Linked DNA regions of Homo sapiens: region 1 is reported to be linked to region 2. The links are microRNA targets in miRTarBase. Many come from high-throughput screens and were not tested one by one. Region 2 holds a microRNA gene; the other region holds the end of a gene's coding sequence.
The links. The annotated mature microRNA hsa-miR-4684-5p reads CUCUCUACUGACUUGCAACAUA and lies in region 2 at 2,922-2,943, shown strand. An mRNA with a match to its seed (bases 2 to 7 or 8) in the 3' UTR can be bound and repressed. Matches are read on the target gene's strand: a 7mer-m8 pairs with bases 2 to 8, a 7mer-A1 pairs with bases 2 to 7 and ends in A, and an 8mer does both.

Region 1 (4,000 bases), not on the chromosome of region 2:
TTTTAATTCATAGCTTCAACCCATCTCCTCTACAGAGAAAGATTCTTTGGTAGATAATTTTTAGAAACACTGCCCCTTTCAAGAAATCCAGTTCTCCTTTAAATACATTTTATCTTTACTGAGCTTCTTTGTTTTGTTTTACAATTCCTATGGAATAAACTCTGCACCTTTTAAGGGTATTAGTGAGGTAGTTACTTACAAGTCTTTGAAAGATTATTTTGTTTTCTTTTGCAGGTGATCACTCTTTTTATCTGAGTTGCAGATGTGGTGGAAAATACAGTGTTTCCAAGGATGAAGCGGAAGAAGTTAGCCTGATTTCTTGTGATACATGTTCACTAATTATAGAACTCCTTCATTATAACTAAAATTGTTCACAACTTGAAATGCTTTAACTGTGGTATTGAGACATGATGAGAAGCCGTTGAGCTTTGTCCATTCAAGGAAATGGATTATTTGTCAGCCCGATTATTTGCAAAGAAAATATACAATTATCAAGCAGAGACCACCTCAGATTAATAGAGAATGAATATAATTATTTATTTGTATTTATAATTTATATTTACAAGTTGTCACAAAAATAGATTTGATTATATTTGGTGAATTCCCATCTGAGAACTTTATTATGTCATTTTTTTCCATGACACAAAATAAGAATTTTCTTAATATGAGCATGTCTCCTCTTTTCAGTGGGTAACAGTATCATCATATTCCTTTATAGTTACTAAGTTTCTGGTCTAACCGATAACGTTTCTAGTTGCTAAAGTTATGGGGCTGTTGTACACCTAGAATCTTTGTGAATAATGTGAGGCCAGTTCTTCCATAAGGAAGGCTGGTTATGGATATTCATAAGGTTATTTCAAAGTTAATAAAGACAAAGTGGCAACTGTAGAAAGTGTTGCCTCCAATCTTGGTCCGTATTTCCAAAGCTTGTAAACACTGCCATCTTCAAATTTAAATGTAATTTAGGAAATGGAAGCTTTTAATTTTAATTTCTTTTTTCTAAGACAGAGTCTCACTCTGTCGCGCCAGCTGGAGTGCAGTGCCATGATCTCAGGTCGCTGTAACCTCCGTCTCCTGGGTTCAAGTGATTCTCCAGCCTCAGCCTCCCGAATAGCTGGGATTACACGTGCCCACCACCATGCCCAGCTAATTTTTGTATTTTTAGTAGAGATGGGGTTCCACCATGTTGGCCAGGCTGGTCTCAAACTCCTGACCTCAGGTGATCCACCTGCCTCGACCTCCCAAAGTGCTAGGATTACAGGTTTGAGCCACCGTGCCTGGCCTAAGTTTTGTTAATAGAGATGGGATTTCATCATGTTGGCTAGGCTGGTCTTGAACTCCTGGCCTCAAATGATCCGCCCACCTCAACCTCCCAAAGTGCTGGGATTGCAGGCGTGAGCCACCATGCCTGGCCAGAAGCTTTTTTAAAAATAATGACTTGGAAGTTGGTGCATTATTTCCCCTTTTATTTTGGAGTGTTGATATAATATTGGGGCCAGGCATGGTGGCTCACATCTGTAATCCCAGCACTTTGGGAGACTAAGGCAGGCGGATCACCTTTGGTCAGGAGTTCAAGACCACCCTGGCCAACATGGTGAAACCCCATATCTACTAAAAATAATTTTTTTAAAAATTAGCCAGTCACGTTGGTGTCTGCCTGTGGTCCCAGCTACTCGGGAGGCTGAGGCACAAGAATCACTTGAACCCAGGAGGCAGAGTGAGCCGAGGTTGTGCCACTGCACTGCAGCCTGGGCTACAGAGAGCAAGACTCTGTCTCAAAAAAAATAAAATAAAATAAATAAAAAAAGATATAGTATTAATGCCTGTATTTATGAAGACAGGGCCATTGCACTGCTGCTATGCTGAAATGAACTTTTATAAAGTATTATTGACTATAGCCAACTACAGATGGCATATGCCTTAAAGATGCATTTTTCTATGTATTTAATATTTTGTGTACAGTAAAAGTCAGAACTCATTTAAAGAACTTTAAGGGATCCTTTAGAAACATTTTTACTTAATTTCAAATGAGTGGGCTGAGCATGTAGACTAGCAGCTTTTTATCAAACCTGGCATTGTCAGGTTGAACTTATAAATACGAATAGTTACTACTCTGACTTGTAAATGTAGCTGCTAAAGTATGAGGTATATTTAAGAAGAATAGATTAGTTTCATTATACCTATAAGAACAAGAATTCAAAAGTGAGGTAGTCATCCAGGTTCCCCCTCCCACAATATTTTTGTATCATAAAATTTAGATGACTTTTTTGGGTTACATTTTTATCCATATATTTTGAACTAACAGAACTTGGCAGAATGTGTGTTGAATATTCTTTACATTTAACAATTAAAAACAACTAAAACTGAATAGCAAATAGTTTATTGGTAAGTACACGGTTTCAACGGGAGTAATAAATTCACATGAAAAGGAGACAATAATCAAGTCAAAAGAATAAATGCTTACTAATCATCAGAAAATCTGTGGCCATTAGGGCTGGCACGTAAAAATCCAAAATCACTCAGAGGCCAAATCTGTAAAATCAAAATGAGGTTGAAGACAATTAGTGAAAGTAATGTTATAGTATCATCATATTCCCTTTTGCTATCTGTCCCTTTTCTCTATGCCAGATAAACACTTTCTCCTTACTCATCAATCAAGAATAAAATTTTCTACATCAAAGTAAGACTTGAGAAAATAAACTTATGTGTATATATGTTTAAACTCCAAAGTTTGGGACATTCAAACAATGTACATGAAATTATATGTGTGTGGTGTGTGAATAAATATGTATGAATATATGGTCTGTGTTTTCTTTTACTACTTGCAAGTAAGAGTTAACTGTGTACTTTCAACCAAAGGGGCTTAGGTTTAAGTACTTGAATATGGCATCTGTTTTAAATGTAAAGAATCCTGTAAATTATCCAACAGCTCCATGTATTCATGAATGTTTTTCTCCTCACTGATTGTGATAAAAAGGAGGGGCCAGTGAAAACAATCTTCCCTAATAATCATACATTCACAATAAGTCTGTGACTCACAGTACTCAACTGGGGTATCCCTACTTTACAGGTAGTTTGAATCTAGACTGTTCTTCTGCACATGCTTATTAAAATATGCCCTGGGCAGGATGTGAACATGGTTTTAAGAGTTGTACAAGAGAGAACTGAACTTTTGGAAATTCAAATTAAAGTTTTCTTAGGCTATAGCTAAGGTAGTTTGGATTTTATTATTATCTCTATGGGAGCAGGGGCAATGGGGGAATAGGTTTGCATATGGCTATTAAGTTAAGGCCAACAGGTTCAAAAAATATATTCGGTGCAACAGTTAAGTACACTGACAGCTTGAAGATTTCAGAGATCATTTTGAGAGAAACTTTTTCTAGCTCAGAAAATAAACCTTACATTTTAAGCAGAAAATGGTACCTTAAAGAAGATTCGTCCTCTTATTAGTCCATATGGAATAGGTCCATAGCACCTGGAATCTGTAGAATTCTGTAGATTGTCACCTTCTAACCAAACATGACCCATTGGCACCTAGAATTAGAGAAGAAATGCAGCCTCTTAAAGATAAAACCTAATTTGGGTACTATAATTAAAAAGCATGTCATTCAGAGGTAGGGAGAAATGTCCTAAGGCTCTCTTTTATAGAATAGATACAAATCCTAATATTGCATTTTTGCTTTTATTTCTTGCACAATAACTTTTACTAAATATCAAAGGTTTCAACTTTTTTAAAAACCTATCATCTTTTTTTGTCATATGGTTCCCAAATATTAATTTGTTATACAAACCCCAAACTGAGGTTATAAGAGATCAAAATAGTGTGACAGGGTCATTAATTTAATAGACTTCAAAAGAGGTCATTAGGATGCTGACTGAAAATGCGCCCTTGTGTCTCAATAACAGTATAAGCAGGGCAGCCACTCACTCAGCAACATCCTGGGGCCAATACCAAAGCCAAACCTATTAGAATGCTCATGATGAACTAAATGGTAATTGA
Region 2 (4,000 bases):
GATTACAGGCCTGAGCCACTGTGCCCTGCCTGGGACAGATTCTATGGGCCAGTTTGCTGGGCATTCAGCCCGTGGTAGCCTCTGGTCAACTCTGCCTGCCCAGAGCTCACCTGTGAGTTTAGACTGGAGACTGGACCTCTGCACATAGAAAGGCCCCTAACAGGAAGGGGCAGATGGAGCCTGCTGGTGACAGGATGCCTGGGCTGGGCAAGGCAGGGGACCCATGCTCCCACTGAGGGTGGCGGAGATGCAGAGCACGGTGGGCCTCCTGACGGGAGGATCTTCCACACCTCCGACCAAGGACCCGTCTCCTGACCTGGCACCTGCATGCCTGACTTAGCTGGAGATCTGGGAGATGGGGAACAAGGTTGGGGAGTCTGTATTTTTAACATACTCTCCAGGTCTTTCCATTAGGCAGGCAAATTTGCCCCCCAGCGGCCTATGATAAAACACAGGACTCCTGGGAAAGAGGAAGAGAAACCTCAGCAGGAAACTGGAAAAGACTGAAATGAAGTGAAATCAATCAGAGTTAGCGCCCACCAGCCCTGGCTGCCGCTGGCTCGTGCATAAAAAGAGGGTTAGCTGGGGGAAGGCAGGGAAGGAAAGAATGTTTGCACAGCTCCCAGGGGTGGGGCAGCAGGCCAGGCAGTTGTTGATTGTGGCAGCACCTGGAGGCTCCCTGATTGGGATCAGCTCAGGCCTTCTGATAAGGCTGCCTTGAAAGCATTTTAGGGCCTTTTAAAGCAGCTGCCTTCCGGAGGGTGCAGGAGGGGGACACCTGTCTCCCCAGTACCCCCGTGTCATCTGGGGGCTTGCCTAGGACACCCTCACTAGGTGAGCTTCCTGGAGCCATCTGCCCCCCTGCTGCAGCCCCTGTGGGGTGGGAGTGTCCTCAGAAGAGGGGACCTTGCCTGCTGTGTGGCCTTGACCAAGTGATCCACTCTCTGAGCCTCAGCTTCCTCATCTGGAAACTGGAGAATACCGCGCATGTGTCAGAGGCTCATGGCGAGGATTCAGTGAGATGCTGTGTACCATGACTGGCAGAACTGCCTGGCACTCAGCTGTGTCCATTCTTTATTAGTTTCCGTAACCATTAAATGTCAGCAGCACCCTCGTGCCCCTGGCCAGAATGACTTGTCCCTTTCTCTGAAGTCCTACAGAGGCTTTGCTTAGCCCTGATCACTTTCTCTCCTGTTCTATAAACAGCAGAGCCTGGGGGTTACAGGAAATGTGTGTGGAGTCAGACTGCTCCGTACTGTGTGTCCTCTGGCTTGTGTTTTCACCTCTCTGAGCCTTGGTTTCCTCATCTTTCAAATGGGGGTAATCATTGTTCCTAGCTCTTGAGATGGTTGTGAGCAATGGATGTGTTAATCTGAGGAAGACTAAGCTGAGTGTGTGCCTCAGGTGTGCTAAGCTTGCAATAAATGTGAACGGTTGCTATCCTTGCTTTCTACCAATGGGAAGCTCAATTCACAGTAGGGGAACAGGGGGCCAGTGTACCAGGTTTTTCATCTCCAGCTCTCCCCCACCCACTGTGTTCTGAGCCTTACAGGGCAAGGGTCTGACTGGCTTGCCAAGTAGCTGAGAGGCCCCTCCAGCCTGCCCACTCAGGGTACCATCCAGGTTTTCTCAAAGGCCCCCTCCCCACTCCAATTCAGCCTCCCTAATCTGGGAAAGGGGTAGACTCCTTCATGGCTGTACCCTCCTTCTTTGCCCAGTGCCTGCCAGGCACCACCTTCCCTGCCATGATCATGGGAATGGCTGTCAATTCTTTTTTTTTTTTTTTTTTTTTTTGAGACAGAGTATTGCTCTTGTTGCCCAGGCTGGACTGCAGTGGTGCAATCTCGGCTCACTGCAACCTCTGCCTCCCGGGTTCAAGAGATTTTCCTGCCTCAGCCTCCCTGAGTAGCTGGGATTACAGATGCCTGCCACCATGCCCGGCTAATTTTTTGTATATTTTAGTAGAGATGGGGTTTCACTATGTTGGTCAGGCTGGTCTCGAACTCTGACCTCAGGCGATCCACCTGCCTCGGCCTCCCAAAGTGCTGGGATTACAGGTGTGAGCCACCGCGCCCAGCAGCTGTCAATTCTTGTGCCAGACATTGTACTAACAGCATTATGTGTGTTGCCTTGTGCAGTTGCCCCAAGAGCCCCACAGGTCGTTGTATTATTGTGCCCATTTTACAGATGAGAAAACCAAAGCTCTGAGAGGAGTGACTGGCCCAAGGACACCTAGGGAGTGGTGAGGCAGCGATTGAAACCCAAGTCTGGTGACTCCAGAGCTCATGCTCTTCTCCACTTCTAGAATGTGCCTCCCTGCTCAGAGGAAAGGCTTGGCTCTGATGAGGGTCTCTAAGGCAGCTGTCCAGCTTCCAGCTCCATCAACATCCTGAGATAATGCAATGGGAGGGTTCTACAACTCACAAACCTGCCATAAAAATGCAATCTCTGTGATAATGGTCAGAATAATGTTGTTCTAACTTAGACAAATCGGGTGTTAACTCATTATGTTGTAAGGGGCGCCTCCACAGAGAATGGAGACTACGAAACAGTCACAGGGCCATTTGCAGCTTGTACTTCCAAATACAATAGCTCATCAGGCCTTCACAGCCATCCTGAAAGGGGCAGGAGCCACGGGGCCCACTTTAGAGATGAGGAAACTGAGGTCTGGGAGATAATATGACTCGCCCAAAGCCAGCAGCGGGACCAAGCTTGAAGCCCAGGGCCAATCTTAATAGCTCATCTATCCAGTTCAAATTCTTAGCCAACATTTGAAAATCAAGAGATTTTACAGAAAAGTCCTGTTTCTGGCGTTTCTGAAAAGTCAGACAATCTGGTTTCACAGGGCCCACATTCCCACATGGCCACAGTTGGCTGGAGTGACTGCCTCTTAAGACAGAATGTGTGAGCACCAGGGGTACCTCTCTACTGACTTGCAACATACATTTGTCTTGGTGTGTTGCAAGTCGGTGGAGACGTACCCTTGGTGCTCAACCCCTGTAAGGGCTTGAGTTTGCCTCCTGGATCTGCCCCTGTTACCCTGTGTGACCTGGAGTCAATTGCATGGCTTCCCGAGCCTCAGCTCTCTCTTCTATAAAATGACAGGGGTGAGACTCAGTGATTTTGGAGGCCTCTTCCAGCTCCAGGATTCAGTGCCCATTGCCAGGGTTCAGGGGTTCAGGCAAGGGAAGGGAGAGCTACAAAAAGTACAGGACTCCACTCCTGAAAAGCATATCACTTATCTTTAGCAAGCCACCACAAAACCTACTGGCTTAAAACAATAATGATTTCTTAGTTGTCCTGATTCAGTGGATTGGCTGGGCTCAGCTGGGTGCTTATTCTGTTCCCCGGGTTGTCAGTTGGGATCACTCAGGAGGCTGCACTCAGCTAGGTTGGGCTGGAAATTCCATCGTGGCTTCACATACATCTTTGAGGCCCTCATAGAGAAGGCTGGAAGGCTGGTCCCCCTACGCTCCTCGCTATCTCCCATCCTTTGCTAGTCTAGACTGCGCCTCTATCCATGGCAATTAGCTCCCAAGATGGTGAAATGGAAACTGCAAGGCTTCTTAAGGGCTGGGCTCTAATGTCACAAAGTGTCACCCCTGCAGCCTTCTGTGGTGGTCAAAGCCAGTCACAACACCAGCTCAGATTCATCCCAGGCTTCCTCATCAGGTTCAAGGAAAAGGAAAATATACTGGGCTTGATTTTTTTGTTTTATCCTTGAAGAGAAGTCCCATTTCTTGCTCAGCTGTTCAGCATGGAAAATTTAATGGTGGGTTATCCAGCGTCCCACTCAACATGTCCTGACCCACTGAATCAGGTGACACTCAGAGTTCAGTGCCCGCCCCTGCACCCTGTTGTTGTCCATGTTTCTTGGGCCAACCTGTGGTCCAAACTTGAATCTAGACGCCCCCTTACTGGGAGGAGTGGCTTCGTGTTTAGTAGGGGGAGGAATTGTTGGCAGCCATATTTGGAGACAGCCTCTCACAGGTAGTTTATC

Region 1: the mRNA of DNAJC24 is a reported target of hsa-miR-4684-5p. Seed matches in the 3' UTR shown: 7mer-A1 at 517-523 and 7mer-m8 at 1,165-1,171.

Annotation. Positions count from the first base shown.
Region 1 is chr11:31,430,037-31,434,036 of GRCh38, forward strand. It overlaps DNAJC24 (DnaJ heat shock protein family (Hsp40) member C24), which reads left to right. Exons shown (of 5, transcript NM_181706.5): 5 at 235-2,799. The coding sequence ends at 365. It overlaps IMMP1L (inner mitochondrial membrane peptidase subunit 1), which reads right to left. Exons shown (of 6, transcript NM_001304274.2): 5 at 3,424-3,534; 6 at 2,365-2,532. The coding sequence ends at 2,464. Among named protein-coding and RNA genes, the nearest start is that of DNAJC24, 62 kb to the left of the region's middle.
Region 2 is chr1:22,716,609-22,720,608 of GRCh38, forward strand. It overlaps MIR4684 (microRNA 4684), which reads left to right and starts at 2,909; the gene lies at 2,909-2,990. All of the region lies in intron 1 of EPHB2 (EPH receptor B2), which reads left to right. RefSeq lists an enhancer at 556-1,245.